Homo sapiens: one gene and its partners. The protein of the gene in region 4 purifies or fractionates together with the protein of the main gene of each other region. This does not show direct contact. Each region holds a gene or a part of one and is shown on either strand. Other genes may lie near its edges. The genes, in order: CDCA2, RGPD8, RGPD1 and NPIPB6.

Region 1 (3,572 bases), on a different chromosome or scaffold from region 4:
GGAGTGCAGTGGTGCAATCTCAGCTCACTGCAACCTCCGTCTCCCCGGTTCAAGTGATTCTTCTGCCTCAGCCTCCTGAGTAGCTGAGATTATAGGCACCCGCTACCATGCCTGGCTAATTTTTTTTTTTTTTTTTGTATTTTCAGTAGAGACCAGGTTTCACCAAGTTGACCAGGCTGGTCTTGAACTCCTGACCTCAAGTGATCTGCCTGCCTTAGCCTCCCAAAGTAAAGGGATTACAGGCATGAGCCACCGCACCTGGCAGACTTTTAATGATATAAATGAAAGGTGGTATAATATGTTTAAGGGTATGGCCTTTGGAATGTGATAGACTGTGATTCAAATTTTAGCTCTAACTTAGTAACACATGGCTTGGAGTCTACTAGGTTTGGTTTGTGTCAACAAGAAGCCATTAAGGGGTTTCCGCCAGGGAAGACACCTGAATAAAGGTGCCTGGCCCATGACACCTGCCAGCTAAGTCCTGGTTTGTCAGAAAAGCTGGGAGCAATCTGTTGCTTTGTCATAATCATAAAAAATCCAGAGACCTTGGAAAGCACATGTGCTAAAAACGCCACAATGAATGTTGAGGAAAAAGTCTGGATATTTAAGAATGATCCTTACAATCCAGATGTCAATTCTGTAAACTGTGAATAGCAGTTTGTCATTGATACTTAAGAGTTGAGAGGCTAACTCCATTGCTTCTAGCAACTAACAAAATGGGGATTCCATCTGAGGAAGTAAATTCTGGGTGATTATGAAGTATGAGGCTTGGAATGGAAAAGGGATGGATGAATAGCTTCATGTCAGCTTCCCAATACTATTAGGTGTTTTTAAACCAAGTATATGTTGTGGTAACAAATATGAAATTTTTAAAAGAAAACAAAAATAATCAACATATACACATATAAAAAATGACATTTATGATTTTAAGATAAACAAGTTACTACCTGAAAGGGTCTCAGAGATTGATGATTTATTAGGAGAACTGAGAACGGCAAATGATACTTGAAGTGGTTCTATGTTTTCCTAAACAAAGGAAAAGACAGAAGTTAGATATCTTTAAATGCAGTGAATACATAATGTGCCCAAAAGAAGAGTAAGAATTTATTTTGGTAGGAGAAACTATAATAAGCATAAAGATGGGTAATCAATAAAAGATTCTAAAATTCAAAGCAAAACAAAGATATTGAATAGAAAAATATATGTATACCATTTACCAATCATGTTTGCAATGAAATGCTTACTAACTGCAATCCATCAAACTACTAAGAAAATTTATAAGCGAAAGTACACATAATGATCTACTGCTAAATTTCTAACTCCTATAAAGAAAATTTAAAAATTCATTCATAAACACAATCTAACGTTATAATGTTATTCAGGGAACTCCAGAGTAAGATGGCAATATAAATACAGATAGCAAATCTTTTCCACATAATTGTTGGTAAGACATTAACTGTTGGTTTTGCATAGACATTAGTCAATTTGAAGAAATTCTTTTATTACCATTTTGCTCAGAGGTTTTATTTTTTAAATGAGAAGTGGATACTATATTTTGTTAAATGCTTTTTCTTTATTATTATTATTATTATTATTATTATTATACTTTAAGTTTTAGGGTGCATGTGCACAACATGCAGGTTTGTTATGTATACACGTGCCATGTTGGTGTGCTGCTTTTTCTGCAACTACTCAGATGATCGTATTTCTGTCTTAGTCTTTTAACAAGGCAGATTACACTGATTGTTTTTCAAACATTAAATGGCTTTGCAGCCCAAGGCTAAATCTCACATGGTTATGATGTATTATCTTTTTATATATTGCTATGTTTACAAGGATACTGAACTGTAGTTTTCTTCTCTTATAATGCCTGTCTGATTTTGCACCAGGTTAATGCTGAAATCACAATGCTGACATCAATTAACCTACCCCTTCAATTTGTGGAAACACTTGTGTAGAATTAGTATTTTAACTTGCTCAAGTGTTTGGTAGTATTCATCAGTAAAATCATCAAAAACTAGCCAGGCATGGTGATGTGTGCCCATGTCCCAGCTACTCGGGAGGCTAAGACGGGAGGATATGGGAGGATAGCTTGAGCCTGGGAGGTTGAGGCTGCAGTGAGCCATGACCGCACCACTGCACTCCAGCTTGGGTGACAGAGTAAGACCCTATCTCAAAAAAAAAAAAAAAAAAAATCATCTATACCTAGAGTTTTCTCTGTGGGAAGGTTTTAACTAAAATTTAAATATCTTAAGTTGATATAGGGATAATGAGGTAATTTATTTCACCTTTAGTGAGTTTTGGTAATTTGTGTCTTCTAAGGAATGTATCCAGTTTACCTAAGTTGTTAAATTCATTGGCATAAATCTGTTCAATATGTACAAGGAGTCAGGGAAGTATTATTTGTAATGGGCAAAAACTCATAAAAACCTACATACAAAATAGATTAATTTAAACCATGGCATATCATTTAGTCTATCTCATTATTTCAAAGCATAGTTATTGCTCATGCAAAGCAGGTGAAGCCTGATGAAAATACATATGGCAAGCTTGTTCCACGCTTTTCATACTTACAAGATTCTCCCCCTTGTCATCAAAATCTGGTTGAGGTAATGGCTCAGGAACAGGTGACTGCTCAAGCAGCAGGGAACTGAGACCACTGAAGTCTTTTTTACAAACAGGTGTTCCTCCTTTACGCAATGGAGTATTTGCTGGCAAAGATTCATCAAACACTTCCGGGCTTAAGTCCTCTCCAAAAGTAACTCTCTTCCTCTTCCTCATATTTAGAAAGGCAGGTGCTTCAAAATTTTCTTCATCTTCTATAATTAGACAATAAATGAGAGTAACTTAAAAATTAAGCTATATTTCTTATCTAAAAGGCATATACTAGAATCTTTTAATGTGATAATATTCAGCTATTATTTGTATAATAGCTAGTAAAGCAAAGCTATAAAATAATTGTTGGTAGAGCAAATTCAAAATGGAGAAGATAAGCACATTTCCAATTAAAATATGGCAACAGATTTCCAAGTAAAAATTTGCATATTAAACGTTAATAAAATTGAAATATAAATTTTCTTTACAAATACCACCACTAAGTAAAAATGGATCCATGAAATGGACAGACCAATTCTGAGGCTCTCCAAGGAGATTCTAACCTTCTCAACTGTTCTTCATTCACGTGTTATTTCAGAAGCACTAAGGCATTATAGATCATTGAAAATTTCATATATTATACTAGGTTTTACTAACATGAAAATGATATCCTCAAGCTTAAAAACAAGTATGAATTTCTTACCTGCTTCTTTCTCTTTGCAACAGTTTGGGAGATTTGAGATTAAGCTCGGATGAGTCCCATCATCATCATAGAGGTTGTTACAGTGTTCCTAAACAGAATAAACATTAATGAATAATTTTACATATAGAAATACATAGACGTCATCATTAAGAACAGCAGTTTTGAAATTCTCTGTCAACTGCAGATAGATATTCCAGTATTAAAGATTACCTTTATTTTCAATAATTGTTCTGGCTCAAAACCATGATATCAGGCACAAATCATAACTATGTCC
Region 2 (3,572 bases), on a different chromosome or scaffold from region 4:
GGTGGGAAGATCGCTTGAGCCCAGAAGGCAGAGGTTACAGTGAGCAAAGATGGAGCCAGCTGCTGCACTCCAGCCGGAGCAAGAGAGACAGATACTGCCTAAAAAAAAAAAAAAGCCTGCCTCCCTCTTAATTTCCTGCTTTAATCCACTCCCAGCCAGGAAATCAGAATCACCAAGCTTCTTATCCCTAGGATAGAGCCTTACAGCATCACATATTGTGTCAATTAAAGATCTTTTATACAAGCTATTCTCCTGCCTTACAATTACAGTTTAGTTTTTTATTCATTGCTATTTTCCATCTGATTAAGGTATCAGATATCTAACCAAAAACAAATTAAGATATAGGCATGGTCCTCTTTTACTCCAACAGAAGACAATTTTTAGAAAAAGTGTTTTAAGCCAAACAATTTCTTGCCCTTGGTATAAAGCAGCAGCATGCAGAAAACACTAATTGCAGTTTCAATCTCAATGGAATCTAGGCTGGTCCTTAGCATCAGTCTGAGTGATAAATCCCTTATTCCAGAATACACTTAGGAAGAACTACTAAGAACATATTTTTACCTATTTCAAAGAAGAAAATGAGAAAAGGCATTGATTTTAAAAAAAAGAATACATGTTACGGTTTGTACTTACTTTTTAGCAAGATCATATTCTTTAGCTTCATAATACAGCTTTGCAAAATAGAATCCTTTCATTGACTTCTAAAAAAAAATTAAAAGTTGTTTTATGTTTCATACAGAAATATTTTCCAACATTTTTTCAAAAGTAGTTAAAGCCTGACAAATGCATAATTCCATGTTTTATAATTTCCTACCACAAAACAAAAAATAGAGCTGGGTGCAGCGGCTCATGCCTGTAATCCCAGCACTTTGGGAGGCCGAAGTGGGCGGATCACCTGAGGTCAGGAGTTTGAGACCAGCCTGGCTAACATGGTGAAACCCCGTCTCTACAAAAATAGAAAAATTAGCCAGGCATGATGGCGGGTGCCTGTAATCCCAGCTACTCAGGAGGCTAAGGCACAAAAATCAGTTGAACCCAGGAGGTGGAGGTTGCAGTGAGCCAGAGGTTGCAGTCAGCTGAGATCGTGCCATTGCACTCCAGCCTGGGCGACAGAGACTCCATCTCCCAAACATCATCATCATCATCATCATCATCATCATCATAAATAAGCTGGGTGCAGTTGGTCACACCTTTAATTCTATTTAATTCTAGCACTTTCAGAGACCAAGGTGGGAGGCTAGCTTTGAGGCCAAGAGTTTGAAACCAGCCTGTGCAACACAACAAGATCCTGTCTCCAGGGGGAAAAAAATAGCCAGGCATAGTGGAGCATGCCTGTGTTCCTAGCTACTCAGGAGGCCAAGGAAGGAGAATCACTTGAGCCCAGGAGGTTGACACTGCCGTGAGTTATGACTGTGACACTGCACTCCAGCCTGGGTGACACAGGGAGATCCTCTCTCTAAATAATAAATACATAACATACAAAAAATAAATTCAAGAAAGCAAGACAAGCAGACAACAGAAGTTAAGAATTTTCATCAGCCTTGGAAATCTCGGAAACCCTGTGGTACCACTCTCTCACTTAACAAACAAAAGAAACCAGCTTTCTTTGGGGAGGAAAGGTATTCCAGAAATCTCTTCTCCTACCATGTGTAAGCCTCTATGGGAAAGAATAAATAAGTACTTAGGATCTATTAAGGCACTGAGGATTCCCGGGTCCATGTACTGTTCTCTCTACAGATCAGATCAGTATTTTACAGTCAAGGAGTCAAAAAGGCAGAAATAAATATTGAATTCTTCAAGTAATAAACGAGGTCCACAGCCTGGATCCTTGGTTACATAAACTCCAAAGTCCAAAATGCTGATGCACACCAGGCTGGGTGCGGTGGCTCACACCTGTAATCCCAGCACTTTCGGAGACTGAGGCGGGTGGATCACTTGAAGCCAAGAGTTCGAGACCAGCCTGGCCAACATACAGAAACCTCCTTTCTACTAAAAATACAAAAATTAGCTGGGCATGGTGGCACACGCCTGTAATCCCCGCTGCTTGGGAGGCTGAGGCAAAGAATCACTTGAACCCGGGAGGCAGAGGCTGCAGTGGGCCAAGATCGCACCACTGAACTCCAACCTGGGCAACAGAATGATTCCATCTCAAAAAAAAAAAAAAAAAAATGCTGATACAACCAGAGTATGTTCCATCCATGTGATAGAGTATACAGCTACTCAAACATCTTATTTTTGAAATTCCAAGACCCCAGTGAATGTCCAAAACGATGAATAGTACCAAACCAGGTTGCCATCAATCGAAACATGTTTCCTGTTTGTGTCCTCCACCCACAAATTTAATGTCTTGTCCATCTCAACTAAGCACTTATCACACACTGTGGCTGTAACTTTTGCAGTTTGGGGTGTCACAACAAAACTAGCACAAATTTCTTTTTCCTTCTTCACAATTTCATGGACAAAAGATTTGTTCTTACCATAGATCTCAGCAACCCCAGTATATGATCTTTTTTCTTTCCTAAGTCAAAAACTCACCTCTTCACTTAAAGGAAGCACTATATGGCTTCTCTCTGGCATATGTGAACTGCCAGCATCGCTATTCTTGCTCTTTGGTGCCATTTTAAATAAAATAAAGGTCACTTGAACACAAGCACTGCAATACTCCAACAACTGATCTGATAACTGAGGTGGCTAGTATGTAACTAGCGGGTGGGGAGCACATACAGCATGAATATGTTGGACAAAGGGATGATTCGTGTCCTGGGTAGGACGGAGCAGGAGGCCGTGAGATTTTTATCATGTTATTCAGACCTGTTTGCAATTTAAAACTCATGAAATGTTTATTTATATAATCTTCCATTCAATATTTTTGGACCACGGGTGACGCAGGTAAGTAAAACCACGTAAGGCAATACTGTGGATAAGAAGGGACTACTGTACCAGCAACGAACAATCAGAAAATGAAATTAAGAAAGCAATTCCATTTACAATCGCATCTAAAAGAAAAAAATGCCTGGGAATAAATGTAAACAAGGAGGTGAGAGACTTGTATGCTTAAATTACAAAACCTTGCTCAATGCCAGGCTAACACCTGCAATCCCAGCACTGGCGACAGAGCAAGACTCCGTCTCAAAAAAAAAAAGAACTATAGCAATCTTAACAAAAATAATACACAACAGTCAGGACAGCACATAAAGGAACAAGTCCTGTTCCCCCCTTCCTTTTTTTTTTTTTTTTTGAGATGGAGTCTTGCTCTGTCGCCAGGCTGGAGTGCGGTGGCTCGATCTCAGCTCACTGCAACCTCTGCGTCCCGGGTACAAGCTGGGACTACAGGCGCACGCCACCATGCCCAGCTAATTTTTGTATTTTCAGTAGAGATGGGGTTTCACCATGTTGGCCAAGATGGTGTCGATCTCTCGACCTTGTGATCTGACTTCTTCCGCCTCCCAAAGTGCTGGGATTACAGGCATCAGCCACCGAGCCCGGCCAGTTCCCCCTTTTCAAAATGAAGAAATAGATTCAAGGTACAATGCCAAAACATAATAGAAAAATAATTCCATTACCTTCTTTGC
Region 3 (3,251 bases), on a different chromosome or scaffold from region 4:
GCATAGCTACCCCCAATGTTAACATAACTGTTAACAAATTATCAAAACTAAGAAATTCGTCTTGGTATAGTATCACTAACTAAACTCCAGACCTCAGTCAGGTTTTCCCAGTCTTTCCTTCAGTGTCCTTCCTCTGTTTCAGGATTCAATCCATGATCCTTGACACTTGGTACTTTGTCAGATGTCCCGCTGTATGGGTTTGTTTGATGTTTTCCCATGATTAGGGATAGACACTGCAAGACTCAGAGCTACTTTACAAAGAAGCCTCTAGGGAGCTCCCCAGAGAAGACAGGGGAGACAACACAAGGACACTAGAGGAAATTTTAGCCTCTGACATCCATGACTATATAGCAAAGAGTAAACAAAGCCTAACTCCTAGCCAGAGAAACACAAAATCTCATACTAAAGCCTTATTTAACTCAGTTCGTTTCACCCAGTACATCATATACAGCCTCAAACAAAAAATTACAAAGCATACTAAAAGACAAGAAACCCCACAGTTTGAAGAGACAGAGCAAGCATCAGAACCAGACTCAGATATGAAAGAAATATCGGAAGTATCCAACCAGGAATTTAAAATAACTAAGATTAACATGCTAGGGGCTCTAATGTAAAAATGGCATAACATGCAAGAACAGATGGGTAATGTAAGCAAAGAGATAAAAACACTAAGAAGAAATAAAGATGAAATACTAGAAATAAAAAACACCATAACAGAAATGAAGAATGCCTTTGATGGGTTCATCAAAAGAATGGATATGGCCAATGAAAGAATCAGTGAGCTCAAAGAGATGTCAATAGATACTTCAAAAGCTGACACACAATGAGAGAAAAGAATGAAAAAGAAAAAACAGAACAAGAGTCAAGAACTGTGAGACAATTACAAAAGGTGGAACATGGAGACTTTTTGGAAATACCAGAAAGAGAAGAAAAAGAGAAAGAAAGCCAGGCATGGTGGCTTACGCCTATAATGCCAGCAATTTGGGAGGCCGAGGCGGGCAGATCGCAAGGTCAGGAGATCGAGACCATCCTGGCTAACACGGTGAAACCCTGTCTCTACTAAAAATACAAAAAATTAGCGGGGCGTGGTGGCAGGCGCCTGTAGTCCCAGCTACTCGGGAGACTGAGGCAGGAGAATGGCATGAACCTGGGAGGAGGAGCTTGCAGTGAGCTGAGATCGTGCCACTGCACTCCAGCCTGGGCAACAGAGCAAGACTCTGTCTCAAAAAAAAAAAAAAAAAAGAGAAAGAAACAGAAGAAACATTTGAAGCAACAGTGACTGAAAATTCCCCCAAATTCATGATAGATAAAGCTATGGTCTGAATGTTTGTGTCTCCTCAAAAGTTATATTGAAACTTAATCCTCAATGTGATAGTACTGAGGTGGGGCTTTTGGGAGTCAATCAGGTTACGAGGGCTCTACCCTCAGGACAGAGATTAGTGCACTTATGAAAGAAGCCCCAGGGAATTAGCTAGCCCCTGACACCATGTGAGGACAAAGCCAGAATGTGTCATCTATGAGGAAGCAGGGCCTCACCAGACACTGCTAGTGCCTTGGTCTTGGACATCACAGCCCCTAGAACGGTGAGAAATAAATTTCTGTTGTTTATAAACTCTCCAGTTTATGATATTTTTGTCACAGCAGCCCAAATGAACTAAGGTAGACATAAAGGAACAGATCCAGGAAGCTCAAAATACATCATTTCAATAATGATCTTTAAAACTTTGTTTGAAATTATACTGATCATTCCGCTGACTGCTGAATGACCTGGCACCGTCTCAGGGTTTTAGTCTGGAGTTTTTGTTTATGCTCATGGCCTCACGGAGAACAATATTCACCTGAAGTGACGGCGCTTCTCTTTTTATGTTGTTGAGAAGCATGATTGGCTCTTTTTTTGCAAAATTATTCACAAACTTAAACTTTGATTCAGAATTATTGAAGTAACATGGTGAGGCAGAGTAATATGTGACTTAAATTTTATGGAGTACTAAGGAAAACGGGCAGACTTAATATAAAAGTGGTGCATTGGTGGTGCTTAAGGGCAAATACCGATAACATGGTGTACAAATAAAGGATCCCGATGATTCAAACAGGTGGAAGTGATGGGAGAACTGAGTTGTCACACAGTACCATATCCACACTGTCACACAAATCTCACCTTTATTTATTCCCTTTTGCACTAACGTAGCCAGAAATGTGAAACGATGACAGTTTTTTCAGTAGGTATTTTTTTTTTTTAGTTTTTATCATTGACCTTTGAGGTGCACTATTAAATTGCTCAGTCCATTAAAATAACGGATTGCTGATTTAAAAACTGGTTCCTTGCTTAGCTTCAGCAAAACAGCAAAGTCTACCACATTAAATGTATATTGTTTATTTGATTTTTATTGACTTTGTTGTCTTATTTTAACTACTTAATTGCAAATCTGTCTTGGGGTTAACACTGTGTAAGAGTTTTAAGCATAAGAAGTCTGTACTTAGAGTTTAGATGTAGTTTTATATTTGTACATGTTGATGTAACATTTTAATAATAATAATTCAGGTCTGCTGGGCATGGTGGCTCATGCCTGTAATCCCAGCACTTTGGGAGGCTGAGGCGGGCGGCTCACCTGAGGTCGAGAGTTCAAGACCAGCCTGACCAACATGGAGAAACCCTGTCTCTACTAAAAATGTAAAATTAGCCAGGCATGGTGGCACATGCATGTAATTCCAGCTACTTGGGAGGCTGAGGTAGGAGAATCGCTTGAACCCGGAGGCGGAGGTTGTGGTGAGCTGAGATCGCACCATTGCACTCTAGCCTGGGCAATGAGAGCAAAATTCTGTCTCAGAAAAAAAAAAAAAATCAGGTTAATTCTGGGATCTGAGCAAAGTTTTGCTCCTTTCCGAGAGGTGAACACGTTACGCAATTATTAATAATATCCCTGTGGGAAGGGGCTTTACAACAAATTATTTTACAGGTGAAGGGCAGAAATGAAAACATTTTCTAGAGCCACTCCTGCCCTTCACACTCAGGAATGTCGCAGTAGTCATCTCTCTGTTCTGGATCAGTAGTATAGCACCAGGGCCCCTGCGCATCGTTGTCTGGATTCCTCCAGTCCCTCTGAGGGGTGTGTAGCAGGTGAGAATCTGGGGAGGATGGAAGAGAAGCACTTAGACTATATTCTAAAAATCAGCTTGCTATTAGCAAGGCAGAAGGAGATGCTCTCGATTCCCATCTGAGATTGTCATCCAAATGCATTTCAGCTGGGTGC
Region 4 (3,572 bases):
CTGGGCGCATCTATTGAATTAGAAATGATCGGAATGGCTCCTAAGTCAGGGTGTTATGTCCTGAAAATAGGTGACAACGGCAAACCATCCACCCTGGTGTTGACTGACTTTAACAAGGTTCAGTTCACAGACATTGAGGGCAGAAAAAGGAAATGGCCTAAAAAGGGTAAGTTTGCTGTGTTGCCCTCACACCACTTGATTCATGGTCCTGATCCTAAGGATCTCACCTGATACTTGGTTTTATAGGAAGGATGTGTAAAATTCCCAGAACGCTAGGAAACAGGGGCGAAAACACTTCAAAGAGAAAGTTAATGAACTTGTTTCTGACCACAGGGCATCCTTCAGCACATGCTGTCTGGAGTGGCCTCCAACAAGGAGTGTGTGGTGTGGTGCTGAGAATGCAATGGGAGCAGGGTCCTGTCCCCACGGTAAAGAAGCTCACAGCTTAATGCAAATGAGAAGCCAGTGAGGACATCACTACTCCTGCTGTCCACTTGGGAACTAGAAACACAAAACCTGACTCTGGAGGGAAGCTAAGGAAGCATTCTACTCTTGAGTTGACATAAGTGCATCTGAAGCTTCTGATCTCCGATGAGAACAATGGGGGACACCAAACAGAATATAAAACCCATGATTGAATACATCAAATTGCTAACATGGCAGTAAACAGACATGAGGTGAAGATGGAGAAGAAGGAAACCCAGGACGAAAGTCAGCCTCGCATTTGGAACCCATTTCCCTGAGTTTCATTGCTGAATTCCAGAAGGAACTACTGAGATGTAAAGAAGCACAGCAGCTTTTGCACACATGCGTGGGATTAGATGGAAAACAAGTGGATTGAGGGTCTGCCAATGAAAGCGACCCGTACTGAAGTCCACTGGCTCTGGTTGAGACCCAGAAGAGTCATGCATCAGAATAGAGGTGGACAGGAAATACCCTGGCCTTTGTAGGGACTGAGCCTGCACCGACGACCTCAATTGCAGCCTGTATGGAGGACCCGTGACCATCCCCCAGAAGTAGACTCCCATCTCTTCTGCAGCAAGATAACATGCCACTAGGCCTCAATTCATTGCTAAATATTTTTTAACAAGTATCTCACATTTAACAAAAAGAGCTCAGTCATATGGCAGCAAAATACAATGTAATATGACCAAAACATGAAAGACTGTGAAAATGAATCTGGAGGTGACCCAAGCATTGAATTCAACAATCCAGGCTGGGTGCGGTGGCTCACACTGGGAGGCTGAGGTAGGCAGATCACCTGAGGTCAGGAGTTCAAGACTAGCCTGGCCAACATGGTGAACCCCTGTCTCTACTAAAAATACAAAAATTGGGCCGGGCACGGTGGCTCACGCCTGTAATCCCAGCACATTGGGAGGCCGAGGTGTGTGGATCATGATGTCCAGAGTTCTAGACCAGCTTGGCCAATATGGTGAAACCCCGCCTCTACTAAGAATACAAAAATTATCCGGGCATGGTGGCATATGCCTGTAGTCCCAGCTACTCAAGAGGCTGAGGGATAAGAATCACTTGAACCTGGGAGGTGGAGGTTGCAGTGAGCCAAGATCATGCCACTGCACTCTAGCCTGGGTGACAGAGTGAGACTCTGTCTCAAAAAAAAAAAAAAAAAATTGGCCGAATGTGGTGGCACACACCTGTAATCCAAGCTACTCAGGAAGCTGAGGCAGAATTGCTTCAAACTGGGAGGCAGAGGTTGCAGTGAGCCAAGATTGCACCATAGCACTCCAGCCAGGGCGACAGAGCGAGATTCTATCTCAAAATTTTAAAAAAAAAAAAAAAAGGCTGGGTGTGGTGGCTCACACCTCTAATCCCAGCACTTTGGGAGGCTGAGGCAGGTGGATTACCTGAGGTCAGAAGTTCGAGACCAGCCTGGACAACATGGTGAAACCCCATCTCTAGTAAAAATACAAAAATTAGCTGGGCGTGGTGGTGGGCACCTGTAATCCCAGCTACTTGGGAGGCTGAGGCAGGAGAATTGCTTGAAGCCAAAAGGCAGTGAGCTGAGATTGTGCCATTGCACTACAGCCTGGGCAACAACAGCAAAGCTCCATCTCAGGAAAAAAAAAAAGAGAGAGAGAAAGGAAAACCAATGCCAGTACTAGCAACTCCTCTTCCCCCGAAAAAATTACAAACAAGAATGTAGGAAGGGAAAGGAATTATACAGCTTAAACTAATGAAGCAGAAAGGACAAACTCAATTTTGAGCCCACTGAATTTGCCACAAATATTGTAGAAAATATTCTCAAGGACTTTACAGTTGTCTACTTTGATTGGCACATGGTTCATACAACAGTATTTGTGTCAAGGCACATCTTACTGTTTTCTGGCGGTCTTCCTCTTTCCATTGATTTTGTCATGACGGTTGATTTTCGTTGTCACCTTCCTCTTACGGATTTTAGCTCTAACTTTTGTTTCCACATGCCTCCGTAGAGTAATGACGTCTTTCAGGCCAATTTTATTTCCTCGAAAGGAAGAAACTCTTTTCTTTGTGTGCATACAAATGGACCTCAGCCCTTGGTGAGAGTGAGGAGAGGAGAAGGTGAGAAACCTGAGGTCAAGAAGCTGTTCTTTCCCTTTCCAGGGCAAACTCATTTCCACACTATGGGGACTCCAACAGAGCCATACCTTTCTGTCTACTGCGGTTGGACCTCCAGGCTCTCTGCTGTACATCCATGGATCCATCATGTCCATTTCGAGACCAGAAGATAGTCTTCAGGAAAGACACCTAGGAAATAATAATATAAGAATGACGGCTGGGCACGGTGGCTCATGCGTATAAATAATCCCAGTACTTTGGGAGGCCGAGGCAGGTGGATCACGGGGTCAGGAGTTCAAGACCAGCCTGGCCAAGATGGTGAAACCCTGTCTCTACTAAAAATACAAAAATTAGCCAGGCATGGCAGCGGGCGCCTGTAATCCAAGCTACTCGGGAGGCTGAGGCAGAGAACCATTTGAAGCTGGGAGGCGGAGGTTGCAGTGAGCCGAGATCACACCACTGCACTCCAGCCTGAGCGACAGAATGAGACTCTGTCACACACACACACACACACACACACACACACACACACACACACACACAAGAATGACATGAGGCTGGCACGGTGGCTCACTCCTGTAATCCCAGCACTTTGGGAGGCCGAGGCAGGCGGATCACCTGAGGTCGGGAGTTTGAGACCAGCCTCACCAACATGGAGAAACGCTGTCTCTGCTAAAAATACAAAATTAACCAGGCATGGTGGTGCATGCCTGTAGTCCCAGCTAGTCAGGAGGCTGAGGCAGGAGAATCACTTGAACCCAGCAGGAAAAGGTTGTGGTGAGCTGAGATTGTGCCATTGCACTCCAAACCTGGGCAACAAAATTGAAACTCTGTCTCAAAAAAAAAAAAAAAAAAAAAAAAAGAGCCCAGGTGCGGTAGCTCACGCCTGTAATCCCAGCACTTTGGGAGGCTGAGGCGGGTGAATCACAAGGTCAAGAGATGGAGACCATCCTGGGCAACATGGTGAAACCCCGTCTCTACTAAAAATACAAAAATTAGCTGAGCATGGTGATGCA

What was found.
Region 1: the proteins of NPIPB6 (region 4) and CDCA2 purify together in Homo sapiens (affinity purification with mass spectrometry; one large-scale study listed by BioGRID and IntAct). This does not show direct contact.
Region 2: the proteins of NPIPB6 (region 4) and RGPD8 purify together in Homo sapiens (affinity purification with mass spectrometry; one large-scale study listed by BioGRID and IntAct). This does not show direct contact.
Region 3: the proteins of NPIPB6 (region 4) and RGPD1 purify together in Homo sapiens (affinity purification with mass spectrometry; one large-scale study listed by BioGRID and IntAct). This does not show direct contact.

The regions. Positions count from the first base shown.
Region 1 is NC_000008.11:25,483,213-25,486,784, reverse strand, and holds part of CDCA2 (cell division cycle-associated protein 2), read right to left. Parts: intron 3,387-3,572; coding exon 3,299-3,386; intron 2,820-3,298; coding exon 2,575-2,819; intron 1,027-2,574; coding exon 948-1,026; intron 1-947. UniProt on the Homo sapiens protein: Regulator of chromosome structure during mitosis required for condensin-depleted chromosomes to retain their compact architecture through anaphase.
Region 2 is NC_000002.12:112,423,607-112,427,178, forward strand, and holds part of RGPD8 (RANBP2-like and GRIP domain-containing protein 8), read right to left. Parts: intron 702-3,572; coding exon 634-701; intron 1-633.
Region 3 is NC_000002.12:87,008,081-87,011,331, forward strand, and holds part of RGPD1 (RANBP2-like and GRIP domain-containing protein 1), read left to right. Parts: intron 1-2,143; exon of another isoform or gene 2,144-3,251.
Region 4 is NC_000016.10:28,346,497-28,350,068, forward strand, and holds part of NPIPB6 (nuclear pore complex-interacting protein family member B6), read right to left. Parts: intron 2,746-3,572; coding exon 2,646-2,745; intron 2,534-2,645; coding exon 2,338-2,533; intron 1-2,337.